Homo sapiens: one gene and its partners. The protein of the gene in region 1 interacts with the protein of each later gene in a biochemical or structural test. Each region holds a gene or a part of one and is shown on either strand. Other genes may lie near its edges.

Region 1 (3,750 bases):
AGAACATATCCATACGAGGACAAGAGGATGTTTCAAATCCATTTTGGGTACAGGTTATATATAAATACATATGCATGTATTTATATATGAAAAATACATATATGAAAGACAAAAGAAAAGAGACAGACAAAAAGAAACATGGCCAATCAAAAGCACAATGAGGCTGGGGGCGGTGGCTCACGCCTGTAATCCCACCACTTTGGGAGGCTAAGGCAGGTAGATCACCTAAGTCAGGAGTTCAAGACCAGCCTGGCCAACATGGCAAAATCCTGTCTCTACTAAAAATACGAAAGTCAGTTGGGTGCGGTGGCTCACACCTATAATCCCAGCACTTTGGGAGGCTGAGGCAGGTGGATCACCTGAGGTCAGGAGTTTGAGACCAGCCTGACCAACATGCCGAAACCCCATCTCTACTAAAAAATACAAAAATCTACTAAAAAATTAGCTGCGCATGGTGGCAGGTGCCTGTAATCCCAGCTACTTGGGAGGCTGAGGCAGGAGAATCGCTTGAACCAGGGAGGTGGAGGTTGCAGTGAGCTGAGATCACACCATTGCACTCCAGCATGGGTAACAGAGCAAGACTCCGTCTCCAAAAAAAAAAAAACACACACACAAATACAAAAGTTATCCAGGCGTGGTGGCACATGCCTGTAATCCCAGCTACTCAGGAGGCTGATGCACGAGAATTGCTTGAACCTGGGAGGCAGTGAGCCGAGATTGTGTCACTGCACTTCAGCCTGGGCAACAGAGTGAGACTCCATCTCAAAAAAAAAAAAAGCACAATGAGATACCACTTCATACCCACTAGGCTAGCTCTAATAAGAAAGACAGATAATAACAAGTACTGGCGAGGATGTGGAGAAATTGGAATCCTCATATATTGCTGGTGGGAATGTAAAATAGAATAGCTGTTTTGGAAAACAGTTTGGCAGTTCCTCAAAAGGTTAAACACAGCGATGGCATATGACCCAGCAATTCTACTCCTAGGTATCTACCCAAGAGATATGACAACGTAAGTCCACAGAAAGACTTATACATGAACATTCACAGCAGCGTTATTCCTAATAGTCAAAAAGTGGAATCAACCCAAAAGTCCATCAACTGACGAATAAATAAAATGTTGTATGTCCCTACAATGGAACATTATTCTGCCAAAAAAAGAATGAAGTACTGATACTATGATATGGATATTCCTTGAAAACATTATACCGGTTACAAAGACCATGTATTGTAGGATTCCATTTATATGAAATATCCAGGATAGGCACATTTATAGAGACAGAAAGCAGACTTGTGGTTACCAGGAGCTGGGGCGTGGATTTGAGGAATATGGGAAGTGACTGTTGCTGGGTATGGGGGCTCTTTCTGGGGTGATGAAAGTGTTCTAAAATTGATTGTGGTGGTAGTTGCACAACTCTGAATATACTAAAACCACTGAATTGTACACTTTAATGGGTAAATTTTATGGTATGTGAATTATATCTCAATAAAGCTGTTTTAAAAAGAAGAGGAAAGAAAGAAAAGAAACAGGGCCACAGAGACTCAAAATAAGGACTGTCCATTTCCAACACCCCCTATACCTTGCCACTCCACCCCAAGCTCAGGCTACACTAGGTTCCAAGCTCTGAACTCCAGACTCTAGCCTCAAATCTGGAGTCCAGGGGACAAGCACATGGCCAGCATTTGGTTGAAGACCAGGCCTGGGAAGGGGGAGTTCCTGCCAAGGCCACTGTGGAAGAGGCCAGGAATTCTGGCCCAGCTGAGCCAGCCAGCCTGTGTGGAACTGAGGGAGAGAGGGTGGGAGGGGACAGGTACTGGGCTAGGGAGGGGAGGCTGCCCCAGGAGTAAAATCTGGACCTTGCTAATAACCACGATTTTTACTGTTACTCATTATGACAATCATAGGGCCTCTCTCCTCACTCCTGAATAAAGAGCTCCCTTCCTACCCCAGGCCCCTGCCAATTCCCTCCTAGGCTGAGAGGGCTGATGTCAGAGGAACAGGGGCCCCACCCACTGGACCAGTTGCCGCCCTGGCCCCCTCCCAACTCCTGTGGGGCCCCACACAACGGGAACTGGAGCTGGGGGAGCCATGCAAGGGAAGAAGAGGCTGGCAGAACCTCATCAGTTCCTACAGTTGGACCCTCACACACAAATACACATACAAACTCATGCATGCAGGTCTACAGAAAACATCTGGGTGGGCAAGAGCACGCCTGCAGCCCCAGCCTGTGTGTGTGCAGGCATGCATGTGAGGAGAAGGAACCTGGAGATACCATCTCTCCACACCTGGGCTCCACCACACAATGAACACAGCTCAGAAACTGCATGCATGGGCCCCAGTACACAGCTCCCCAAAGACACAACCACAGCCCCACAGTCTCCCAAACTGTACATTCTCCGAACCTCACACAGCCAGGGTGGCCCTTGTACCTGCTGCTTCTGCCAGAAGATGCTCTGAGGTCCTCCCTGTGGGCCCAGCCCATGCACCAGGTCCACAAACACTCAGGTGAATTCACATCCACAGAGGCCTGCCTCTCTCAAGGTGAGGCCCAAGGGGCAGCTAACCCAAAGTGAGGCCTCTGTAACCCACGCTGAGGCCCAGAAAGCCATCACTCCAGATCTCAGGCATCCTGACCCAGCCTTTGGGGGTCGGGAGGCCAGTTTAGTCAGTCCAGCCTGGACCCTCTGGAACCCACCCTTGCTCCCAGAGAAGAGAAAACCACAGCCACCTCAACTCTGCCCCAGTGGAGTTTGAAATTGAATCAAACTTCAATCCCCACTACCCCCACCTCACCCCCAGCCCACCACCCACACACACTACAGGGCAAGGCTGGAAGGCCTCCCCAGACCCCTATCAGAGCCTCCAAAAAGCCTAACCCAGCTCTGCCTGCAAATTTCAGTGCAAATTTACTCAGCTCCCTGGGGAGGGCCTTGAGCCGCAGGAGGGCTAAAGGTCACAGAAATAGGCCAAGGGCCAGAAAGACCAGAGAACAGGGATGGGCAAGGGTAGGGATGACCAGGGTGGGCCCAAAAGGGCACAGACTCTGCCTCAGAAGGTCCATCAGAAGCTATGACCCTCAGAGAGACACCTGGGCCCCAGCCCCCTACACCCCAGGGGTGGAGAAGGCCTCGGCAGAGAATCGAAACCAGTACCAAAGAGAGGGAAAACAAACTACCCACATCCAACCTCCACCCTATGCCAGCCACCTCCACTGCCCACGGGCACCCTCCCCTGAGAGAGAGAAAACCACAGGCCCACACCTCCAATATATGGAGCCTAGCCTAAGCACAGCAGAAAAAGGGGTAGGGGGCTAGAGCACCTGCAACCAGCCCCACACTCCTGCCCACTGGGGCCGCTCTCACCCTCAGAAGGTGCCAGGATCCCTTCTCCAGCATCAGCATCCCTAGCTGCCCACGCGTTACACCCCAGAGTCACACACCTAGAGAAAAAGGTGAGAGCTTTCTGAGCCACGAAGATGGGAGAAAGAACCAGAAGTCGGAAGGGTCAAATCTCAGCTCTGCCACTCTGGGTGACCTTACGCAAGTCACTTAACCTCTCTAAGCATCTGTTTACTCGCCTGTGAACTGCCTACCTCAACAACGAGCTGTGCGATTTCAGACAGGAAGTCCTGGAAAGCACCCAGACCAGAGCTTGGCACAGGGGAGGCCCGGGCAACTGGAGCCCTCCATCCCCATGCCTCTTGCCACCACCTTGGTGCCCCTCAGCAGTCGGCCTGCTTTCCCTTGCCT
Region 2 (3,750 bases), on another chromosome or scaffold:
CACACTCTAAGTATTTGTACACAGCATATCCCTTAGGCATCAAAATACATACTTTTTCAAGTACATGTGGTCTTCTGTTTCACAGCTGAGGAACACCACCAGAAGCATCAGAATTCTTTATGTACCAAGAAAAGGTGCTTGGTTATATGACCCCAGGGAGATCCTGGGGGGGCTGGGCAAGTCTCTGCAAGTTGTTGCTACAAAGGCAAAGGCAAATCTTGAACTGCAGGGAAGCAGACCAACTCCCACACAATTGAAAATTCTGCCTTCCCCAATCACTATGTGGTATTTACACTGCCTTTCCAAGAGGATCCCCAAAAAGCCCCAAAGCTACAGCACATATAGGCCAAAAAAATGGCTGGGTAAATTCCCATGATGCCAGGGAACTGGGTAGTTTCCAAGGGCAGAGTGTTCCAGAAAAATGCAAATCATTCAGGCTTCCCCAGAGAAATTCCAGCCAAATACAGCTGCTATCTTAGAAAGCCTAACACAAAACTGCAGTTTAGATGCTTGGATGAAGGGGCTAGAAGCACAAGGACAGGCAACATGTTTACAGTCTGCAAGGCATTCTAACTTGCCACTGAATATTCTTCCCCCTCATCCCATTTCGTATCGCCTCGGAGAAGATTCCTTGTGTGTGCGGAGCATGAAATCTATGTGTCTGCTGCTAATGTGATACCTTTTCAGCAATTTTGGGATCTTGAAGACCTTTAACTTTTTTCAAGTTTACATGAGAATTAAAATGCCTTATTTTCAATAGTCAAGTGTTTGTCACTTAAAAAAAACTAGTCCATGAGCAGTGGCTCGTGCCGATAATCCCAACTATTCGGGAGGCTGAGGTGGGAGGATCACTTGAGCCAGGGGCAGGCAGAGGTTGCAGTGAGCTGAGATCAAGCCACTACACTCCAGCCTGGGCAACAGAGTGAGACCCTGGCTCAGAAAAACAACAACAACAACAACAACAACAACAACAACAACAACAAAAATGAGAATCATTCAAAAAGAGGCCACTCTTCTCGCCATCCCCTCAACCAAGGACATGCCACAAAACCATGCGTAAAAAGTAAAGCTCTTGGGAGTCTGAAATGAAGTATTCCAATTTGGCATCTATTTTGGAATTTCTGAACAAAATGTTTTAGCTCTCAAATAGATTCAGGTAACTTTCAGCCCTTAATAAGATGCTACATTTAGCTGCATAACCCCCTCATCCATTTTAAATTATTTCTTCATTATCGCTTCCCCAAGTACATATACAGGATTATCAAGGCTTTCTTCTTTTTTTTTTTGGAGACAGGGTCTCCCTCTGTTGCCCAGGTTGGAGGTCAGTGACGTGATCTCGGCTCACTGCAACCTCCGCCTTCTAGGTTCAAGCGATTCTCCTGCCTCAGCCTCCCGAGTAGTTGGGATTATTGGCACGATAGCTGGGACTACAGGCACCTGCCACCACACCCGGCTAATTTTTTGTATTTTAGTAGAGATGAGGTTTCACCATGTTGCCCAGGGTGGTCTTGAACTCCTGAGCTCAGGCAATCCGCCCACCTTAGCCTCCCAAAGTGCTGGGATTACAGGTGTGCGCCACCACGCCCAGCCTATCAAGGCTTTCTTTAAGGTAATTTCAGTGACAATCCAGAAGTAGGAAAGATGTCTCAGATCCTCTAACCACTCGGTCTCACCAGGATTCTCTAAGTCAAATGTGACCATGCAACAAAAAAGCAGCCATCTTTCTAACGGGATCTCTGTGGCTGGTTCAATTACTCACCTATAGATTATACCCAAATTACAGAATATTTATTTCAAAACATAAGGAAATCCACTGTCAGTTCATAGGCCAAATAAGAAACATCACTCCCAATTAAAGATTTATCTTAAAAATAAAAAGCTTTGGGGCCAGGCACGGTGGCTTACGCATGTAATCTCTGCACTTTAGGAGATCAAGGCAGGCAGATCACGAGGTCAGGAGTTCGAGGCCAGCCAAGCCAATATGTGAAACCCCCTCTCTACTAAAAATACAAAAATTAGCCAAGCATGGTGGCACGTGCCAGTAGTCCCAGCTACTCGGGAGGCTGAGGCAGAAGAATTGCTTGAACCTGGGAGGCGGAGGTTGCAGCAAGCCGAGATTGCGCCACTGCACTCCAGCCTGGGCAACAGAGTGAGACTCTGACTCAAAAAAAAAAAAAAAAAAAAAAAAAAGATATTTATCTTTAAATCAAAGAGGATACCTCTAATAAAACAATCTAAAAATTTATTTAACAAGAGTTAAGTGGTATAGTCAAAGTCATTCTTTTAACCTAAAGTGTTCCTAATAATATCAAAAGAGTCAACTCAAAACTGCCATTTATTAAAAAAAATCAGAGTTCAAACTACCACTTCCCAAGCTTTAGAAGGCTTTCTATGTGAAAAAACAGGTCATGGAAATGAAGTTTCATTATTTATAAATACTGCACTAGATTTAGAAGATCCCGGGTTTTCCAAAAGTCTTAGGTTCCACTTTGTGTGTGACCTTATAGCAATTCTAGCCAATATTACAACAAGTGTAAGACATTTAACATACCATCCCCACAAACACAAAATGCATATCCTTCAAATATAACCAGCACTTAACTATCTAAAGAATGACATTAAAAGTTTTTGAATTCATTAACAGTTTTCCAACTAGTTTGTCCTATGCAAATGACTCAAACTTTCAGGCAGGCCCCAGGAAGCAGCACACAAGAAACTATTTAATTAAAGATTCAGCCTAATTCCCAGTAGTAAATCACAGGAAATATTTTGTGCCAAAGCAACCTCTCCTCGGTCCTAAAACAGTTAAGTTTTGGTTGCTTTGCATTTAAAAACTGGATTTAAGTTAAAATTCATAGTAAAATTTCTCTTTTATGACTCTTAGAACAGGAGTCTTTCAGATCTGAGAGTGAAACTTGGTTTTAACAAGTAACTCATTTTTATGAAACTAACCAAAAGACTAGTTATGAGTTAGAACAGCTCAGGTTGTTTCTTTTCTTCTTAAAATACCCTTTTACTCAAACTGAAAATGTACTTGCTGCAATCAGACTTAAACCAACTGACATTACACCTGAAACACTTACTCATTTGAGAAAGGCAGCCTACTCCAAAGCAAAGCCCCATTAGGCTCCCACTGGGAGCTGCCCAAGGGCCTCCAATTCCAGACAGATAACTTAACAGGTCTCCTAGCTCTGGCAAATAAATTTAAAAAAAAACTAAATTATTCTTGCATTTTTAAAAAAATCAGAACAAGAACCTGATAAAAATGGTTGTAAAGATGATTTAACATCAGAATCTATTTTTTAAAAACCTAAATCTTAAAAAGTGTAAGCATATTCCTAGTTTAAGACTAACACTCTGACAATGCCATTTGAGACGCAAAACTAAAAATATCCCAAAACACTTCCTTTATCTTTAAAGAAAGGCACTCCAGCAAGTTGAAGTAGGTTGTATCCATTTCCAAGGACTAAAGAATGGTGTAAGTACACACTGTACTTTGAATGCAAAAAAAGGGGGGAGGATTTTTTTTTTAAATGGCTAATACTCTGTAACAGCTGAAGTGGAATTGATAGATGAGCAAGTAAGTCAAGTACTTAAATTCAAATGTTAAGTAAAACAAGATTTGGCAGACAATTTCGATTTTGTGACTTAATAGAATATATGCTGAACTTAACGGTAAGAAGGCACTTTACTTTTTTGAAACACTTGGTAAAATTGCATGTAATGCCTGGTAATGAAGCGATAAGTGAT
Region 3 (3,750 bases), on another chromosome or scaffold:
AATACAAAAAAAGTTGAGGAAGTATGTGCGCAGGTGCTATTGACTTCAGAAAGGTTCATATTGAAAGTTTGATGTGACTGTGGCCGGGCGCGGTGGCTCACGCCTATAATCCCAGCACTTTGGGAGGCCGAGGCGGGCGGATCACGAGGTCAGGAGATAGAGACCATCCTGGCTAACACGGTGAAACCCCGTCTCTACTAAAAATACAAAAAATTAGCCAGGTGTGGTGGCAGGCGCCTGTAGTCCCAGCTACTCGGGAGGCTGAGGCAGGAGAGTGGCGTGAACCTGGGAGGCGGAGCTTGCAGTGAGCCGAGATCATGCCACTGCACTCCAGCCTGGGCAAAAGAGCAAGACTCCGTCTCAAAAAAAAAAAAAAAAAAGTTTGATGTGACTTTAACGCATAATTTTAGAGTGCTGGAAAGGGCCTGGTACCCCAAAAGAGTATTCTTCTAATGTCTGAACCCCGGAGGCGGAGGTTGCAGTGAGCCGAGATTGCGCCATTGCTCTCCAGCCTGGGCAACAAGAGCAAAACTCTGTCCCAAAAAAAAAATTTTTTTTCATTTGTTCTACAGTTTGATAAATCTCAAATTAATACAAAGTTGAGAAGAAAATCAGCTTAGTAAATACAGTCAGCTTCTCTCTTAAGAACAGGTTTTGAGAACTTGATATAGGAAATAAATACCTCCAGGGAGAAGGGTCTTTTGTACCCAAAAGAGGCAGGGTAAAGAAGTCGAGAGGCTTGTAACAACATTACCAACTTGAAAATGTAACCTTGAATTGTACTTTTTATTATCCTGGCTTACAGTTACGTTATTAATACCAACAATGACAAAGTAGCCCCCTTTTTCTTAATAAATATCATCTCATTTAGTCTGTACAAAATGCTGTGAGTTTGGCAGGATTATCCCTATTTGAAATATGAAGAAACTGAGGTTAAGTAGCTTACCCAGGACCATGACACTGAGCAGCAGAGCTGGGGATTAAACCCAGATTCAAAGTCCTTCTTCCTCTTGTATAATACATGCAGCAAAAACATGTCAGATTCTACTAGAAATGATATTCTTCCTAGTAATTGCTTTTTGTTTAATAATGAAGAAAAAAATCTAGATGATTAAGAGGAAATATGTGAAGACAAGTTTTTTCATTAAAAATAATTGGGGCTGGGTGCAGTGGCTCACGCCTGTAATCCCAACATTTTGGGAGGCTGAGGCAGGCAGATTGCTTGAACCCAGGAGTTTGAGACCAGCCTGGGCAACATGGCAAAACCCCATCTCTACAAAAAATACAAAAATTAGCCGGCTATGTTAGCGCATGCCTGTAACCCCAGCTACGCGAGAGGCTGAGGTGAGAGGATCACTTAAGCCCAGGAGGCAAAGTTTGCAGTGAGCCGAGATTGTGTCACTGCACTCCAGCCTGGGTGACAGAGCAAGACCCTGTCTCAAAAATAATAATTGGTTAAACTTTTGGAAAAAGTCACACAAACCTTTACCAGTGTGTGTGGAAGGCAGTGGGCACTTGTAAACACTGTTAAATGGGTTTCTTTACTAATGGCAAATAGCACAGAGAAAAGCAATGAGAACATTCTGAATTTTAGAGCACATCTCATAGAATATATTTAGGACAAGGTGGAATTTAGCTATTTGTATTATAACATCTCATTTTTTTAATAGGTGCCTGATTATTACAAAATAATTAAAAATCCAATGGATTTGTCAACCATCAAGAAAAGACTACAAGAAGATTATTCCATGTACTCAAAACCTGAAGATTTTGTAGCTGATTTTAGATTGATCTTTCAAAACTGTGCTGAATTCAATGAGGTGAGGCTAGGGGAGGGAAGGGGGCAGGAAGGAACAGCAGTGTGAAAATCATTTTATTACTAAACACCTTGTCAACATAGGAGACCAAGATGTCTGAGTTAGAATAAATTTCCAACTTTTCAGATCAGGGAATGCAAGAGATAATTCAGATAACTCTGTCCACATTTATATTCAAAGGTTTATTAGATGGTGATGGAAATGCAAATTACAGCTGATAACTGAAAGACAAAATGTTTTTCTCTGACCTAGACATATTCTTTATCATTCCCACCTGTATTTCTTATTTTTATGTTGATCTTGAAATATTAAGGATGTGGGCCAAATAGCTCTAATTTAAAAATTTCTCATCTGTCAGTTCATCTACACATCAGTCAGACTTAGAACCTTTTGCTGCTGGTGGTTTGTTCTCTGTTACTCATTCTAATAGTACTACATTTAATTTGTTCTAAAAATACCTGGTTCATGATCCTATGGTTATGGAATCCTAACTGATATGTGTTTGGCAATATAGTCCTACCATTACCACCTTCTTTTAGAATAATCCAGGCTTTTACTTTTATCTTTTTTCCACACTTCTGAATCTTTTATTTTAGCTGGCCTTCTGTACAGAGACTTTGTCTAGTCCTAAACTATTATTTCAATGACTATGCATGAACACTTTTCAAAACAGCTCATTAATATATATAATCTCAGAAGTCAAAAGTGTGTCCTTTTTTTACTCATTTTTATTTTTACTCCACAGCCTGATTCAGAAGTAGCCAATGCTGGTATAAAACTTGAAAATTATTTTGAAGAACTTCTAAAGAACCTCTATCCAGAAAAAAGGTTTCCCAAACCAGAATTCAGGAATGAATCAGAAGATAATAAATTTAGTGATGATTCAGATGATGACTTTGTACAGCCCCGGAAGAAACGCCTCAAAAGCATTGAAGAACGCCAGTTGCTTAAATAATATGCAGCACCACTAGCTTGTGCTGGTTTTTAGATTTTTTTGTTTTCAAAAAAACATTTGTCAGTAATTTAACATCACTACAAAAAGAAGAGTTTGTGACTATTCTCATCTCTGTTTTGGACGTTTACTAGACTTTGATTTCCTTAATAGCCCATTTCTGTTAACCTCTTATCACTAAGAAAGAAAGGAAAGAAGGAGATGAATAGAAGAAAGAAAATGGAAAGAAGGAAAAAAGGAGGATAGAAAAAGGATGGAAGAAAGAAGCATTGAAAACAAAGACATTCTTCCCACTTCTTGGATTTTTAAACCACAGTCTGGAGTGATAGCTACTGTAGAAAGGAAATAGACTTTGTATGAACTCTTTAAGTTGAAAAGTAAAAAATATATGTGGTTTGGATGTGTGCTTTAATTCAGCTTTAGAAATTAATACCACTACCCGTGAATTATATGGCCTGACAATATGAATTAGGTGTACTGTACTGAAGAACAGTACTCCACAAACATGGGTGGTAACAAGAGTTCCATCCCAGGAGGCCAAACGGTGCAACAGAAGGGTAGGTTAGATGCTATTAAGAAGGCACTTAATAGTACATCATGTAAGATGGCAACTGTATTAAAGAAAAATCCGGAAAACAAATGTTTGATTTTTGTTTTTGTTTTTATCTTGTCTGTAGAGGTATTTTGGTATAGCAGGTTTTCAAGGCCATTTTTTATACATTTCTAGATCTAGATTTTCAACTTCTTCCACTGAGGGAAGTATATACATTTGGGTTTGCTGTGTGTCTATGTGAGGTTTAATTGTACAGGTGATCCTTTTACAACAAGCCTCATTGTTTGCAGTATAGCTTTTAGTGGAACTACCCAAAATATAAATACAGCAGCGTGCACTGTATTTGATGTGAGGGTTCTTCATCATATACCCTACTGGGCATTAAATATAAGTTCCTCTGAAAGGGACTCGTTTTTGTGGTTTTCATC

What was found.
Region 2: the proteins of RARA (region 1) and FOXO1 form a complex in vitro, tested with the Homo sapiens proteins (one study listed by BioGRID).
Region 3: the proteins of RARA (region 1) and TRIM24 form a complex in vitro, tested with the Homo sapiens proteins (3 studies listed by BioGRID).

What each region holds. Positions count from the first base shown.
Region 1 is NC_000017.11:40,326,165-40,329,914, reverse strand, and holds part of RARA (retinoic acid receptor alpha), read right to left. Parts: exon of another isoform or gene 2,431-3,750; intron 1-2,430. UniProt on the Homo sapiens protein: Receptor for retinoic acid. Retinoic acid receptors bind as heterodimers to their target response elements in response to their ligands, all-trans or 9-cis retinoic acid, and regulate gene expression in various biological processes.
Region 2 is NC_000013.11:40,660,007-40,663,756, forward strand, and holds part of FOXO1 (forkhead box protein O1), read right to left. Parts: intron 1-3,750. UniProt on the Homo sapiens protein: Transcription factor that is the main target of insulin signaling and regulates metabolic homeostasis in response to oxidative stress.
Region 3 is NC_000007.14:138,582,180-138,585,929, forward strand, and holds part of TRIM24 (transcription intermediary factor 1-alpha), read left to right. Parts: intron 1-1,670; coding exon 1,671-1,820; intron 1,821-2,562; coding exon 2,563-2,772; 3' UTR 2,773-3,750. UniProt on the Homo sapiens protein: Transcriptional coactivator that interacts with numerous nuclear receptors and coactivators and modulates the transcription of target genes.